2 separate regions of the Homo sapiens genome follow, and region 2 is linked to region 1. The links come from fine-mapping of genetic effects on gene expression. Tissue or cell type: esophagus muscle. Region 1 holds a variant in brackets; the other region holds the start of a gene. All regions are shown on one strand. Distances are between the middles of the regions.

Region 1 (8,100 bases):
GCGCTTTAGGCTGAGTAGTCCTCATCTGGAATGCACCATTTCCATGGTAGGATGGATTATTGCTGCACCTGCTCAACTGTGTCACTTGGTGTATCTGACAGTTCCCGCTTCGCAATGGGCAGCTCTGATCACATCACCATACCTGTCCAATGGTCAGGTCTCTGCAGCACAACCGAAGACTTCTTTTTTTGAGACAGAGACTTGTTCTCTTACCCAGGCTGGAGTGCAGTGGCACAATCTCGGCTCACTGCAACCTCCACTTCCTGGGTTCACGCCATTCTCGTGCCTCAGCCTCCCGAGTAGCTGGGACTACAAGCGTGCACCACCACACCTGACTAATTTTTGTATTTTTAGTAGACAGGGTTTCACCATGTTGGCCAGGCTGGTCTCGAACTCCTGACCTCAGGTGATCCCTTGACCTCCCAAAGTGCTGGCATTACAGGTGTGAGCCGATGCACCCGGCCAGAAGATTATTTTTTAAAACCGGAACAGTCCTCTGCTGTAGATGGCATGGCCTTGCTCCAGAACCTTCTGGGCTTGCCAGAGACTCCCCAAAGCATCCTATGAATCATAGATAGATGGCATCTGCTAGGCTATATGAGCCCAAGTGGCAGGGAACTTTGCATTTTGGCCTGGACTGAAAAAAACCTCTCTTGTTGTGGGCCCCACTCAAAACCAGCAGCCTTCGGAGTTCCCTGAAAATTAGTTGGAGCAGTATTTCCAAGTGTGGCATGTGCCATCTCCCATATCTGAAGGGGCTTGCCAGGCTTTGTGCATCTTTCCTAGGGATAGGAGACACATGGTGGTGCCAGTTCACTGGACTCTGACAAATTTTGCAAAGATCCTTGAGTCTTTGTAGGATTTATCCTCCAACCTCTGGCAAGCACGTGCCTTGCCACTTTCTGTTCACCAGGTTCCATTAGCTCAATGTCGTCGGTACAATGGATTGTGTGATGTTGTGTGGAATGCCAAGATGATCAAGGTTTCTGCTCTATTATGACAGAAAGCAGGACAGTTAACATAGCCCTGGGGTAAGACTGTGGATGTGGACTTTTGTCTGTCCTCAGGGAAAGGAATCGGCTTTTTTTTTTGAGACTGAGTCTCGCTATGTTGCCCCCGCTAGAGTACAGTGGCTCGATCTCGGCTCACTGCAACCTCCCTCTCCCGGGTTCAAGTGATTCTCGTGCCTCAGTCTCCTGAGTAGCTGGGATTACAGGTACCCACCACCACGTCTGGCTAATTCCTGTATTTTTAGTAGAGACAGGGTTTCACCATCTTGGTCAGGCTGGTCTCAAACTCCTGACTTCAAGTGATCTGCCTGCCTTGGCCTCCCAAAGTGCTGGTATTACAGGCGTGAGCCACCGAGCCTGGCAGGAATCTGCTTCTAATCTTACTTCCTTCAACAAATTAACAGTCATGGACTAAATGGCAGGGACTCTGTTGATCTGTTCTAAGAAAGCTAACACATCTGGCACAGCACTCAATCAGGGCGCCACTTGGTTATGTGCACCCTCATCTACAATGATCCATCTGGTTTTTGCAAGAGCCAGATTGATGAATTAAATGGGGATATCCTGGGAACCACCACTTTTATATCCTTTGTGAGTGACTCCAACCACTGCCATTCCACCTGGGCTGGGGCATTGCTTCTGATTAACTCTCTTGGGAGGGAGATGAGGAAGCAATTTCTAATTGGCCTTTCCTACCCTAATGACTCTTATTTCATTCTTTTTTTTTTTGGAGATGGTTTCATTATGTCACACAGGGTGGAGTGCAGTGGTACAATCTCAGCTCACTGCAATCTTGACCTCCCTGGCTTAACCAATCCTCCCACCTCAGTGTCCTGAGTAGCTGGGACTACAGGAGTGTGCCACGATACCCAGCTAATTTAAAAAAATTTTTTTGTAGAGATGAGGTTTCACTATTTTGCCCAGGCTGCTCTCAAACTCCTGGGCTCAAGTGATCCTCCCACCTTGGCCTCCACACTTGGGATTACAGGTGTGGTAATGGCTCTTATTTCAGGAAACCAACGCGAGAGATCTGCTATCTACTAAGTACCTCTATTCCACTATGTATTCAGGGGCCAGGGAAATAACCATCAAGCAGACTGATGGGCCAGATCTCCTTTCATCACCTGGCCTCCATATGCCCCACACTAATACATGCCCATGATGGCATTTTGGTTCCTTAATATTAGTGTCAGTTCCAACTCTGTATCCAAAAGCCTTGAAAGATCTGAGTATTTCCCTTTCCCCAGGATGCAGTTGCTCTGATAAGCAGCTGTAAGTACCTTTGGGGGAAGAATAGGATAATTACCATGATATAAACTTGCCATGGCATTGTAGGATTCTTCCTGAAGGGAACTGGCCCCCACTTCAATGAAAGGGCTCTATATTTGGCCACGTTTGGTGGCTCACATGTGTAATCCCAGCACTTTGGGAGGCCGAGGTGGCACATCACTTGAGGTGAGGAGTTCGAGACCAGCCTGGCCAACATGGTGAAACCCCGTCTCTACTAAAAATACAAAAAATTAGCTAGGTGTGGTGGCGAGCACCTGTAATCCCAGCTACTTGGGAGGCTGAGGCAGGAGAACCGCTTGAACCTGGGAGGTGGAGGTTACAGTGAGCCAAGATTGCACCACTGCACTCCAGCCTGGGTGACAGAGCAAGACTCCATCTCAAAAAAAAAAAAAAAAAAAAAAAAGACAAAGGGCTCTATATCTGAAAACTGGTTTGGGCCTGGAAACTGGGTATGGGATGGGGATTTTCCTTTGCAGTGGCTAACTTCAGCCTTCTGCTGTCTCATTCTTGCTTGTTTTTATAAGCAAGAGATACCCTCCTTCACCATCCTCCTATCTGGGAACACCATGGTCTCTTGGTCATCACAATAGATCCCTGCTTACATTTCTGGTCTTTCTGCCTATTACGGTAATTATGTCCACTTAGCCTCTCATGACCACGTGCTGTCGCCTGACCTCGTTCTGGACTCCTGTTATACCCACTGACTCTAGAAAGGCTAGTCCCATAGCAGCTCCCGCTACCATTGCTCTGGCCTGCTGAGGACAGCTACCACTGACCTGCAAATGCCAGTGGCCCTGTTCCAACTAGCACCTTTTGTATCACTTTATTTATTGAGTATTTCTGGGCCCTCATGAAGAACACAGTAGGCTGGAGGGTTCTATAGTCTTATATAATAGTCATTTTATTCTGGCATGCCCACTTTTCTGAGCCTTTATTCTTCCAAGTATTCTGTCAAGGAAGTTCCAACATCTCTACCTCATTTGCTGGAACTCATAGTTTTTCCACACTTTGAAGATCTATCC[C/T]GGGGGCATATTGCAACAGGCTTCTGGTGTCCTTGCCAAGCTTTAAAATGTTAAATCCCAGGCCAGGCGTGATGGCTCACTCCTGTAATCTCAGCACTTTGGGAGGCCAAGGCAGATGGATCACTTGAGGTCATGAGTTTGAGACCAGACTGGTCAACATGGTGAAAACCCGTCTCTACTAAAAATACAAAAATTAGCCCGGTATGGTGGTGTGCACCTGTAATCCCAGCTACTCGGGAGGCTGAGGCAGGAGAATTGCTTGAACTCAGGAGGCGGAGGTTGCAGTGAGCCTAGATCGCACCATTGCACTCCAGCCTGGGTTACAGAGCAAGACTCATCTCAAAATAAATAATAAATAAATAAATAAATAAATAAATAAATAAATAATAAATAAAATAAAATAAAATGTTAAATCCTTACCAGGTAGGGCATTCCATATCAATAAACGTACCCTTATTCAGCATTTTTTTTTTTTTTCTGAGACGGAGTCTTACTCTGTTACCCAGGCTGGAGTGCAGTGGTGCGATCTAGACTCACTGCCAACCTCCACTGCCCGGGTTCAAGGGACTTTTGTGCCTCAGCCTCCTGAGTAGCTGGGAGTACAGGCACACGCCACCAGGCCCAGCTAATTTTTTTGTATTTTTAGTAGAGATGGGGTTTCACCATGTTGGCCATGCTGTTCTCGAATTCCTGACCTCAGGTGATCCTCCCGCCTCAGTCTCCCAAAGTGCTGGGATTACAGGAATGAGCCACCCGACCCGGCCTTACTCAGCCTTATATTCCACCCCCTGACCCCAGTCTAACACCCTCAAGATATGTTCCCAAACATGTTCTGCCAAATTCTTCTGGTAAATGTTCACCAGCTCCTGCAGGTCTTTTGGTGAATCATCCTTTTCTTTCCATAGATGGGACAGTGCTTCCCCACTTGGTCCCTGATGAGACTTGACCATTGTTATTGGTCTAGAGTCATGGAGGGGAGTCAACATCAGGCTTTGAAGAGGGCAAGTATCATCTTGTGAGGCGTCTGCCTCAGGTGAGGAATCTGCATGTTATCTAGGCAAGGGGAGGCTGCTCTCTTCCACCCAGGGGGAGAGGCCAATTCTGCCAGCCCAAATAACTCAGCATAATAAGGGGGTTTTAGAACAGATGTTCCCATACCAGGCCTCAGGATCCCACTCCTTCCCTCCCAGGGCCCTGACCTGCTGGGGCTTTAAATATAAAACCCTGCTACTCTTGCAATCAGATTATAGGACTGATTTTCATCACAGTCTGCCCTGCACAGGAGGTGAGGGTTTCCTTACATGCTGCCATAGAGGTCTTCTGGTTTTTGTTTTGTTTTAAGATAGGGTCTTGCTCTGTCGCCCAGGCTGGAATGCAATGGCACAATCATGGCTCACTGCAGCCTCAACCTCCTGGGCTCAAGTGATCCTCCCACCTCAGCCTTCTGAATAGCTGGGAACACAGGTGCTCACCACCATACCCAGATAATTTATTTTTTGTAGAGACAGGGTATTCCTATGTTGCTGGGGCTTGTCTCGAACTCCTGGGCTCAAGTGATCCTCCCAAAGTGCTGGGATTACAGGTGTGAGCCCGGCTTCTTCTAGCTTTTAACTATATCATAAATTGATAGCTGGCTGATGTGAGTCTGTCTTTTATTCTTTTAACCCTTTGATGGCATTAACAGCAACCAAACAACTCCTTTTTTTTTTTTTTTTGATGACAGAGTGAGACTCTGTCATCCAGGCAGGAGTGCAGTGGCGCAATCTCAGCTCACTGCAGCCTCTGCCTTGTGGCTTCAAGTGATTCTCGTGCCTCAGCTTCCCTAGTAGCTGAGATTACAGGTGCCTGCCACCACACCCAGCTAATTTTTGTATTTTTAGTAGAGACAGGGTTTGCCATGTTGGCCAGGCTGGTCACGAACTCCTGACCTCAAGTCATTCACCCGCCTTGGCCTCCCAAACTGCTGGGATTACAGGCATGAACCACTGAGCCCAGTCTCCACAGTCCTTATAATTACCATTTTCCTCTTACACCTCAAATACTAGAGCTATTGCATAGGCAGTGCATCCCTGTCTGCATCCCATTTCACCAGGGTGACAGTCTGACGATCAGTCCAGTTCTCCAGTGGGTATTAGTACCCCACTTACCTCAGCAATGGAATCTTTGGGCCATCTGGATGATGAGTGATCCAAAACCAGAATCTTATCCTGGGGGTCTACTTCCTAGGACAACTTTGGATATCAAATGTGTTGGTTTGGGTTCCCTCCAGAAGTAGAACCTGAGTCAAGGATTCAAAGGAAAGTATTTATTTGAGAAACACAAGTGTTTATTTGAAAAGCGATGCTAGGAATACCAAGCAAGCCAGTGGGAGACTGACATTGGAAAGAAAGGAGGCTCATAAAGGGTGTGTTATCAAGCAAGTTAAAAACATGGACAACCGGCCGGGTGCGGTGGCTCACACCTGTAATCCCAGCACTTTGGGAGGCCAAGGCAGGTGGATCACCTGAGGTCGGGAGTTCGAGACCAGCCTAACCGACATAGAGAAACCCCGTTTCTACTAAAAATACAAAATTAGCCGAGCGTGGTGGCACATGGCTATAATCCCAGCTACTTGGGAGGCTGAGGCAGGGGAATTGCTTGAACCCAGGAGGCGGAGGTTGCAGTGAGCCAAGATTGCACCATTGCACTCCAGCCTGGGCAACAAGAGTGAGACTCTGTCTCAAAAACAAACAAAACAACAACAACAAAACAAACAAACAAACAAACAAAACACGTGGACAACCAGAGCTTAATCCTAAGAAGGAACTCAGGGAGCCAGTCATAATGTTTGCTGCAGGACCTGAGGGATGAGGAAGCTGGCTATTTACGCACCGATCCCCATCGGTGATTGGCTGAAGGTTGCTGTGGCTGGGAGTATAATTCCCCAGAACTTTCAGCCTGCTCAGCAGGCTCCAGTGGCCAGAGAGAGTCCTTAGATAAAGAGCTGCAGGTTCTGGCAGCTGGAAGTTCATCCAGTGAACCCAAGAGCTTCAGGAACATGGGAGGGCACTGCCAGCATCTGCCACACTAAGGGAGGAATCCTTTCACGAGGAGATACTGCAATGGTTCCACTACCTGGAAGATAAGGCTCTCACCTGAGCTCAGGGCAAAAAAGGGGTTACCTTCTGGGATGACTGATCCCAAATGCCAAGGGTAAGCTGGGTTCTAACTCCAAAAGAAAGGCAGGGAGGACTATGTCTGGAACCCAGGGGACTCCCTGGTGTGCCATGTCCTATTTCCGTGTCCAATAGTAAAAGTTAAAAAAAAAAGAGCAATACAGTTCTGAGGATTCCAATTTGTAGAATGCTAATTTCAAGAATAAAGGTTTATTCTTGAAACCTTTATTTTAAGAATAAAGGTTTGGGGGCCGGGCGTGGTGGCTCATGCCTGTAATCCCAGCATTTTGGGAGGCCAAGATGGGCGGATCACCAGGTCAGGGGTTTGAGACCAGCCTGGCCAAGAGACCAGCCTGGCCAATATGGTGCAACCTTCTCTCTACTAAAAATACAAAAATTAGCCGGGCATGGTCGTGGGCGCCTGTAAATCCAGCTACTCAGGAGGCTGAGGCAGGAGAATTGCTTGAACCCGGGAGACGGAGGTTGCATTGAGCTGAGATCGCGCCACTGCACTCCAGCCTGGGTGACAGAGCGAGACTCCGTCTCAAAAAAAAAAACAACAATAATAATAATAACAATAATAAAAATAAAGAATACAGATTTGGGGCCAGGCACGGTGGCTCACGCCTGTAATCCCAGCACTTTGGGAGGCAAGGTGGGTGGGGATCACTTGAGGTCAGGAGTTCGAGACCAGTCTGGCCAAAATGGTGAAACCCTGTCTCTACTAAAAAAAATACAAAAATTAGCCAGGTGTGGTGGTTGGTGGGCACCCGTATTCCCAGCTACTCTGGAGGCTGAGGCACGAGAATCCCTTGAACCCTTCAAGGGTAATGGAAGAGGAAAGTTATAATATCAGCTTCTGACCAGATATAGAAGCAAGGATTGTAGAAGCCATGGGCATGTTTTCTCTTGCTTGTTTTGTTATATACACTCTTTAAATATTGGTTAACTTTCCTCTCCTTCTTTTCTCTTATTTTTTATGAGGATTGTTGTTGGTGATGACCTTCATAATTTAGGTTGCAGAATACTCTAGAGGACATGTGGCTGAACTAGGAGAATTCACATCACACGGAAAGGGATCCCATTGCTGTAGAGACTTTGCGTCTCTGCTTTTGGGGGAGGGCCCCAGAGCATCTTCATTTGAGCAAAGGACAGTTGCATCTATTAGGCAAAGGGATGAAGCTGTTATTATTCAAATATGATGGATAGATGTGTAACTACTGCATAGAAAAAAGGGGTAGATAATGCCAGTTATTTGCTTATTGACTTTCAGCTTCAAATTCATTCTTATTTTCTCTGCTCTCTGATGTTGGAAGGGGGCTGGGACTCTGCAAACCAGTTCCCTAGCCTCCATTACTGTCCTGTTAGGTTCTGCTTGTAGGCGGTGCACACATGGGTGATAAAAATATAAAGAAAAGCAAGGAAATGATTATCACAAAAGTTGAAATATGAACAAGGAATAAAGCTGGAGGACTTATACTTCCTGATTTTAAAACTCACTGCAAAGCTACATTCATCAAAATAGAGTGGTATTGGCATAGAGACAGACGTATAGACCAATGAAATAGAACAGAGGCCCTCATGTAAACTCTTACACACATGAGCAAGTGATTTCTTTTCTTT
Region 2 (8,100 bases), 290 kb before region 1:
GGCCAGGCTGGTCTCAAACTCCTGACCTCAAGTGATCCGCCCGCCTCAGCCTCCCAAAGTGCTGGGATTATAGGCATGAGCCACCACACCTGGCCTATGTGAGTGCACAATTCTGTATCCAAACGTGTATGAGTGGATCTGTGTACCTCTGTACACCTGTATGGTGTACAGGGGCATTCCTCTACGTACAGATGAGTGTCTGTGTGACTGTGGCTGGTGTGGGTCTCCAAGTTTGTCTACTGTGTCTCTTTGTACACCCGTGTGTCTACACATCGTTTATCTGTTTGCATCTCAATGCTATGGGGCTCTGTATTTGTGTACTGTGCATGTTTGTGTGTGTGTCTCCCCTCAGGAGCTGTGATGTGGTACTGTCAAATGTCAACCCCAGCCCCTCACCCTGGCCAATTCCTGTCACATTCATGCCCTGCTGGGCTGAGATGCGGCCAAGAAGGGCTGTATTGGGAGGGAAAGCCTTGGGCTTAAACCTGGCTACTGTGCTCGGGGCCCAGGACCCTTCTGGGTGGAAGTTATGTCTCTGCTCCCAGGATCTCCAAGACCCAAGCCTGGTGAGAAGCTGGGCCCCTGAACCTGGGCACAATGACAACAGGCTCTGCTCTAACAAAATAACACCCACCTTTAAAGGAAGAAAAATGTGAGCTGGACCCATACATCAACAATGATCCTGTAGGCCTTCAACTCAGAGGGGTGGGGCTGGGTAGGAGTGCTGACCCCAGACACTCACACTCTTCTCCTCCAGAAAGCAGGGCCAGTCCCCAACCAGAGGAGAGGTGGAGGGGACACAGTGGCCCCAGGGTCAATGGGCCTGGAGTTAATCATCTACTCTGGTATCTCTGGGCCCCATTGGCTGCCTGGGGACACGGCCCTCTGGGATGAAGCCCAAAGGAGTCAGAAGCCGCTTCCCAGCCCATTTCCACCTCATAGGCTCAGGGGCAATGGAGCTGATTCAGTCAGCAGGGACTGAATTGGGTGGATCCCTAGGAAGCCCCCATCTGAGGGAGATACCAGTCCTGCCCTCAGGGAGCCCCAGTCTGAGTCAAAGAGGACAGAGACAAGAAGGAATTCTGAGTGGAGAGGGGTCAGCAGGGGTGGCCTGCTGTGATGAAGAGCTGGCCTTGCAGCCTAGGGAAAGAGAAGCACATTTGGGTTGAAGGAGTTTGGAGAGGAAAACTATTATGCCCCTGGAGGCTAAGACCTCCTCCTCCAGTGGATTCTGAGAAGTGTGTGTGTGGCCGGGCCTGAGAGTAAAGAGGGAAGAGAAAGAAGGCCCTGGAGGTGGCCCCACCAGGTAGGGGGTGCAGCCCCTCCACGCCATTGCTTCATGCTTTGCCTTGGAACCCAAGATTTCTAAGTGGGAAAACAAAAAAACTCAATGAGGAGGTCCTATGTCAGCCCCTCCTTCCACTACAGAGTCTCCCCCCCGGGACAGTGTGTCCGAGGGGTGGGGGACTGCGGGGAAGATCCCAGAAACGGGTAAGCGCACTCACTCGGCCTCCCCTGGAGACTCCTCAGGAGGGAAGTAGCCCAAGCCCTGCTCCCCAAAAAGGCAGAGCCCCAGGTGTCAGGACTCCAGCATGGGGAGACAAAACCACGTGCAAGAAAGCAGGGAGGAGCAGGGGTAGGAACTGAGGGTGCTTAGGGTCTGGCCATGCCACTGACGAGCTGTGTGACCTTGGCCAGGTCACCTCCCCTCTACAACAACAGAGGGTCCTCTTTCCCCCTCTACAACAACAGAGGGTCTGACTGGATCAGAGTGTACCCAAGGGCAGGATGTGTGCAGCTGACAGTGCCCAGCACATGGACACAGTATGAAGTAACATTGAATCATATCCTGTGAATGTTTTCAAGCCTTTCAACTCCTTTCCAAAACTTGCTTAACAGCATGGATCTGGAGCAGAACTGCTTCCTAGACCAGCTCCACGGCTTGTGAGCTGAGTGACCCTGATCCTCACATATTTCTGTACCTCCATTTTCTCATCTGTAAAATGGGAATAATGATAATAGCTATCCTGGAGTCACTGAGAGGATTAAATGAATGACTATTTGTGAAGTCCTTTGCATAGTGCCTAGCATTCGACATGTGTTAGCTATTCCTCTACCACACAGAAGGCTTTGCTTGGTGCTAGGGTATCTTTAACACATGGCACCTGCTAACCTTCCATGTTACCAAGAAAGCAGGCAAGCTATGCAGATGGAATATAATGGAATGTAATAACATTGTTTTCCTCTCACTTGATTCTTTTTTAATTTTGATTTTAATTTTAATTTTAATTTTTTTGAGACAGGGTCTCATTCTGTCGCCCAGACGGGAGTGCAGTGGCACAGTCTCAGTTCACCGCAATCTCCTCCTCCCAGGCTCAAGTGATTCTCTGGCCTCCTGAGTAGCTGGGATTACAGAAACATGCCACTACTGCCTGGCTAATTTTTGTATTTTTAGTAGAGATGGGGTTTCACCATGTTGGCCAGGCTGGTCTTGAACTTCTGACCTCAAATGACCCACCCGCCTCCTCACTTGATTCTTAAGGCTTATGGCAAGTGATACTGGCCTAGTTACAGACCTAACATGGATAAACTTTAAGTTTAAAAAGGTTAAAGAGGGCCGGGCGTGGTGGCTCACGCCTGTAATCCCAGCACTTTGGGAGGCTGAGGCAGGTGGATCACGAGGTCAGGAGTTTGAGACAATCCTGGCCAACATGGTGAAACCCTGTCTCTACTAAAAATACAAAGATTAGCCGGGTGTGATGGTGTCTGCCTGTAATCCCTGCTACTCAGGAGGCTGAGGCAGGAGAATCGCTTGAACCCAGAAGGCGGGGATTACAGTGAGCCGAGATCGCAACACTGCACTCCAGCCTGGGCAATAGGGTGGGACTCCATCTCAAACAAACAAACAAACAAAAAAAAAAAAAAAAAAAAGGGTTACAGAGGTCGAGTGAAGTAGCTCACACCTGTAATCCCAGCACCTTGGGAGGCAGAAGTGGGAGGACTGCTTGAGCTCAGGAGTTCACGAACAGTCTGGGCAACATGGTGAACACCCGTCTTCAAAAAAAATAATTTTTTTTTAAATCAGCTGGGCATGGTGGTGTGCATTTGTGGTCCCAGCTACTAGGGAGACTGAGGCAGGAGGATCATTTGAACCTGGGAGGTGGAGGCTGCAGTGAGCTATGATTGCACCACTGTACTGCAGCCTGGGCAACAACAGAGTGAGACCCTATCTCAAAAACCAAAATAAAAAACTCTATTTTATTTTATTTTTACCAGATGTGATATTCGATAAAGAAAAGCATTAACACTAAAGTATTATAAGTTTTGAGGGGTGTTTTGAGGATATCACAGAATTCCTCAAGCTGGTACCCAGTGACTGGAGTTTGGCAAACCCTGGTAACCTCATGGTCATTCATTAGGATCTTTTTTGAGCTCAGGCAACAGGACAGACAAGGCCAGCACCACCCGCCCCCGCCCTCCCACTGCCCCCCTTCTTCTACTCTTTCCAGCGCCCTCCTTCCAGCCCCCTGCCCAGCCCTGTGCTCAAAGCCACCTACAGTCCCTTCTTCTCTGGTCAGAATGCCAATCATCCAAGGCCCTGCAGACTCCCAAAGCCGCCCCTGGAACCTACCTTGGCAGCAGATTAAAGACAACCCGCCACATTTAGTCTCGGCCCCATGACCGATAGTGGGTTCAGTTCCTCCAGGGGCGGGGGAGCCTAGTGGCCCCGCCCCCTGACTCATGGCCTGACCCTCCTCAAACGCACCCAGAGGAGACTCCTGGTCCCCTGTCCGGACCCCGCCCCGACCAGGTCCAGCCCCGCCCAACGGCAAGTTAAGAGCCCCCCAGTGCCAGACGCTCCAGACAGACTGCCACTCTTGGGGGGCAAGAGTTGGTTGTCGTCATGGCGACGGCGCTGATGGCTGTGGTTCTGCGGGCAGCTGCTGTAGCCCCGAGGCTGAGAGGCCGGGGAGGCACTGGGGGCGCCCGAAGGCTGAGCTGTGGCGCGCGGCGGCGGGCGGCGAGGGGCACCAGCCCGGGGCGCCGGCTCAGCACCGCCTGGTCGCAGCCCCAGCCCCCGCCCGAGGAGTACGCGGGCGCGGACGACGTCTCCCAGTCGCCCGTCGCCGAGGAGCCGTCGTGGGTGCCGAGTCCCAGGCCCCCGGTGCCCCACGAGTCCCCAGAGCCTCCTTCGGGCCGCTCGCTGGTGCAGCGGGACATCCAGGCCTTCCTGAACCAGTGCGGGGCCAGCCCTGGGGAGGCGCGCCACTGGCTCACGCAGTTCCAGACCTGCCATCACTCCGCGGACAAGCCCTTCGCCGTCATCGAGGTGAGCGGAGCCCGGCGTGGGCCGTGACGCAGCGAGGGGATGGGGTTGTGCGGCCACCTGTCCTCAGGCATGGCAGGATACGCTGCGGGCTCTGCGCAGCGGAAGCGGGAAGGAGCCCGGCAGGGCCCAGACCAGCGCCGCCGGGAATGGGAGAGGCCGTAAGCTCCTCCGGAAGCCTCCCGCCCAGCCCGAGTGAGGATCCTGGGGGACCCCACCCGCCAGGTGTGATGCTCTGAAGAAGGCCCCCAACATGGGCGCAGTTAGGGGTTCAGAAGGACCTGGACAGGAGCCGCTTGCACTGCCCCTCCCCCAAAGATGTCCCGGAGTCCAAGGTCGGAGGGAGGAGGGCGGGAGGTACCCCAGCGTGAGACAAGGGAGTGGCAAGACCCAACGGGGCAAAGGGCGGAGCAGGTGGGCACTGGTGGCCAGAACTGGGTCCTGACAGCTTCTGGAAGGGTAGGGTCACCGAGACGGCCCTGCAGGCCAGGCTGTGGGAGCCAGCGGCTCAGGTCCGTGTCACGCTCCTTGAAAGCCCACTCCTCCGCAGGTGGACGAGGAGGTGCTCAAGTGCCAGCAGGGCGTATCCAGTCTGGCCTTTGCCCTGGCCTTCTTGCAGCGCATGGACATGAAGCCGCTGGTGGTCCTGGGGCTGCCGGCCCCTACGGCTCCCTCGGGCTGTCTTTCCTTCTGGGAGGCCAAGGCGCAGCTGGCCAAGAGCTGCAAGGTGCTGGTAGACGCGCTTCGACACAACGCCGCCGCTGCTGTGCCATTTTTTGGCGGCGGGTCTGTGCTACGCGCTGCCGAGCCGGCTCCCCATGCCAGGTGAGTGCCCGCCCTGCCCGCCCAGGCGTCCTCAGAGCGTGCTACTCTGCCCGCCCTGCCCCGTCCGGCAGGCCTGGAGGGGGCCCTCTCGAGCACCACGTCTGGCCCACAGCTACGGCGGCATCGTCTCGGTGGAGACAGACCTGCTGCAGTGGTGCCTGGAGTCGGGCAGCATCCCCATCCTGTGCCCCATCGGGGAGACGGCCGCGCGCCGCTCCGTGCTTCTCGACTCCCTGGAGGTGACCGCGTCGCTGGCCAAGGCGCTGCGGCCCACCAAAATCATCTTCCTCAATAACACAGGCGGCCTGCGCGACAGCAGTCATAAGGTGCGGCCCTTTCTTTCACCTTCCCCCACGCCGGCGATCCGGGCCTTCTCTTGCGCCCCTCGCACTTCTCCCCGACGGGCCGCAGACTCACTAGCAAGCCGGGTGGGTAGAAAAGCCTAAGGGAGTATAGGGGAGGAGTTCAGCCCTGGGTGCCCAGATCTGCGCCCTCCCTGGCTAAGGACTCCGGGCGGAAGTAAGGATAAAGGGGTCAGAGAAAAGAGAGGTCCGTGGGGGTAGGGGGGCAGTCCGTGCCGGCTGTGGGCCAGGCTCACCCGCTGACTCCGGACACAGGTCCTGAGTAACGTGAACCTGCCCGCCGACCTGGACCTGGTGTGCAACGCCGAGTGGGTGAGCACAAAAGAACGGCAGCAGATGCGGCTCATCGTGGACGTGCTCAGCCGCCTGCCCCACCACTCCTCGGCCGTCATCACCGCCGCTAGCACGCTGCTCACTGAGCTCTTTAGCAACAAGGGTGAGGGCGGTGGGCGGGCCGGGGACTGGGTCCCGGGAGTGAGTACTGGCCGGGGCTGGGTGTCTGCGGTCAGGAGGAGCGGCTTCTCCTCCTGTCCAGGAGCCGTAGGGGGAGGCGGGGGGTGTCACAGCAATGGCTCCTGCTGCTGCCGAAACCCGGGGGAGGTGAGAGAGGAGGAGACCCAGTGTACTGGAAGGGAACTCCGAAGGAATTAAAGGAATGGGCGGGACTAGGGGGGAGAAGGAGGGGCCCCCCGGTGGGCGGGGCCAGGGGCGGGACCATAAGGGAGGTGTTCGACCGGGAGAGATGGGCGGGGCTTAGGTGGGTGGGCCGGGTCAGCGGCGGGAGACAGACTTCAAGGAGCGAGGCAAGACTAACGGAAGTGGGTGGGGCTCCAGGCGACAGGAGGAACTTGGGGCACAATCTCTGCCTGGGGAAAGCATCTCCTTGAATGAAAATCACAGACAAATCTATGCAGACCACTGAAATCATTTCACTGTGGAGGTCTCCCAAAGACGGAAATTGTCCCACCAGCGCCTGTCCTACCTGCAGTCCCCACCAGGCTGCGCAAACGGCCCTCCAGCCAGACTAGCCCCTCCCCATCCTCCTCCAGGGTCCGGGACCCTGTTCAAGAACGCCGAGCGAATGCTACGGGTGCGCAGCCTGGACAAGCTGGACCAGGGCCGTCTAGTGGACCTGGTCAACGCCAGCTTCGGCAAGAAGCTCAGGGACGACTACCTGGCCTCGCTGCGCCCGCGGCTGCACTCCATCTACGTCTCCGAGGGGTAAGCCTGCGGACCCCAGAGGGCGGGGTCTGGGGGGCAGTCGGGCAGCTTCGGACCAAGGAGAGGTCCCAGCCTGCCGCTCTCCCGCTGCGCCAGGTACAACGCCGCCGCCATTCTGACCATGGAGCCCGTCCTGGGGGGCACCCCGTACCTGGACAAATTTGTGGTGAGCTCCAGCCGCCAGGGCCAAGGCTCCGGCCAGATGCTGTGGGAGTGCCTGCGGCGGGACCTTCAGACACTTTTCTGGCGCTCCCGGGTCACCAACCCCATCAATCCCTGGTAGGTCCTGCCACTCCCAGCTCTGGGCTGGGCCCTGACTTCCCTCCCCTCTCCCACCCTTGCCAACCATGCCAAGAAGGCTGGGCTTCCTCTTCTTCCACTGGTCTCCCTTTCACTACCTCCCAGGGGCAGAACACACAGAAAGCCTGAGATTTCCCGAGTTAAAGCATGCTTAACACTCCTTTTCTGGCAGCAAGTGACACCTCCTAAGCCCCACGCAGCCCACCTCTCACAGGGGCCTGAGGAATCCTAACCCTTCAGGGTCTATTGGAGGCCTGCGGCGCCTCCAGTGGAACATCCCTCCTCTCTCCTTCAGTAACTACCCCCTCACCCCTACACCCTGCTCTGTGAGCACTAGGAAGTGAGCAAGAACCCTCCTCTTTGCTGCACAGCCAAGGCAGTGTGGAGAGCAAAGCACCCGCTCCCTTCCTGTGTGCGCCTGGCAAGGTACCTAACTTCTCTGAGCCTTAGCTGCTTCTCTGTGAGCTGAGCATCACAATGCCAGGCTCAGGCCTCTGCTGTGAGGATAAAATGAGATAACACACAGCAGGACCAAGCTGGGTGCCCAGCATGCAGTAGGTCCTCAATCAATGTTTTTTAAAGACAGAACCAGTGAGTAATGAACACTGGCCTTGCCCTAAAAACTGTTTCCTACATCACCTCCCCACACCCAGGTACTTCAAACACAGTGATGGCAGCTTCTCCAACAAGCAGTGGATCTTCTTCTGGTTTGGCCTGGCTGATATCCGGGACTCCTATGAGTTGGTCAACCACGCCAAGGGACTGCCAGACTCCTTTCACAAGCCAGCTTCTGACCCAGGCAGCTGACCCTCACCATGGACACTACAGGCCCTGGAATGGCCAGGGTGGACCAAAAGCCATGCCAGCTGGGCATGACCCCAGGCAGCCAGCCACAGGCTGAAGGGGGCTTGTTGGCTGAGTGATCTGCAGAGGAGAAAGCAGCCCCAGCTCTGCCCAGAGGAGGCGCTGAAGTGGGACAAGCACAGGAAAGAAGGGGACCAGTCTAGGACCCCAACTCGACTCACTCTAAAGCTACAACCAAATGGCCTTCGATTTTCAACCTGG

What was found. PIP is the estimated chance that this variant, and not a neighbour inherited with it, causes the effect.
Region 2: NAGS starts here. The variant in region 1 is fine-mapped to the expression of NAGS in esophagus muscle (GTEx, PIP 0.99).

Annotation. Positions count from the first base shown.
Region 1 is chr17:44,293,941-44,302,040 of GRCh38, forward strand. It overlaps RUNDC3A-AS1 (RUNDC3A antisense RNA 1), which reads right to left. Exons shown (of 4, transcript NR_110802.1): 4 at 5,634-8,100. Among named protein-coding and RNA genes, the nearest start is that of RUNDC3A-AS1, 10 kb to the right of the region's middle. The variant C/T (reference allele first, on the strand shown) is at 3,323.
Region 2 is chr17:44,000,760-44,008,859 of GRCh38, forward strand. NAGS (N-acetylglutamate synthase) reads left to right here and starts at 3,863. Exons shown (of 7, transcript NM_153006.3): 1 at 3,863-4,330; 2 at 4,878-5,152; 3 at 5,265-5,478; 4 at 5,770-5,950; 5 at 6,564-6,735; 6 at 6,832-7,014; 7 at 7,689-8,100. The coding sequence starts at 3,905. The coding sequence ends at 7,842. It also overlaps a transcript of PYY not described here. RefSeq lists an enhancer at 4,786-5,541.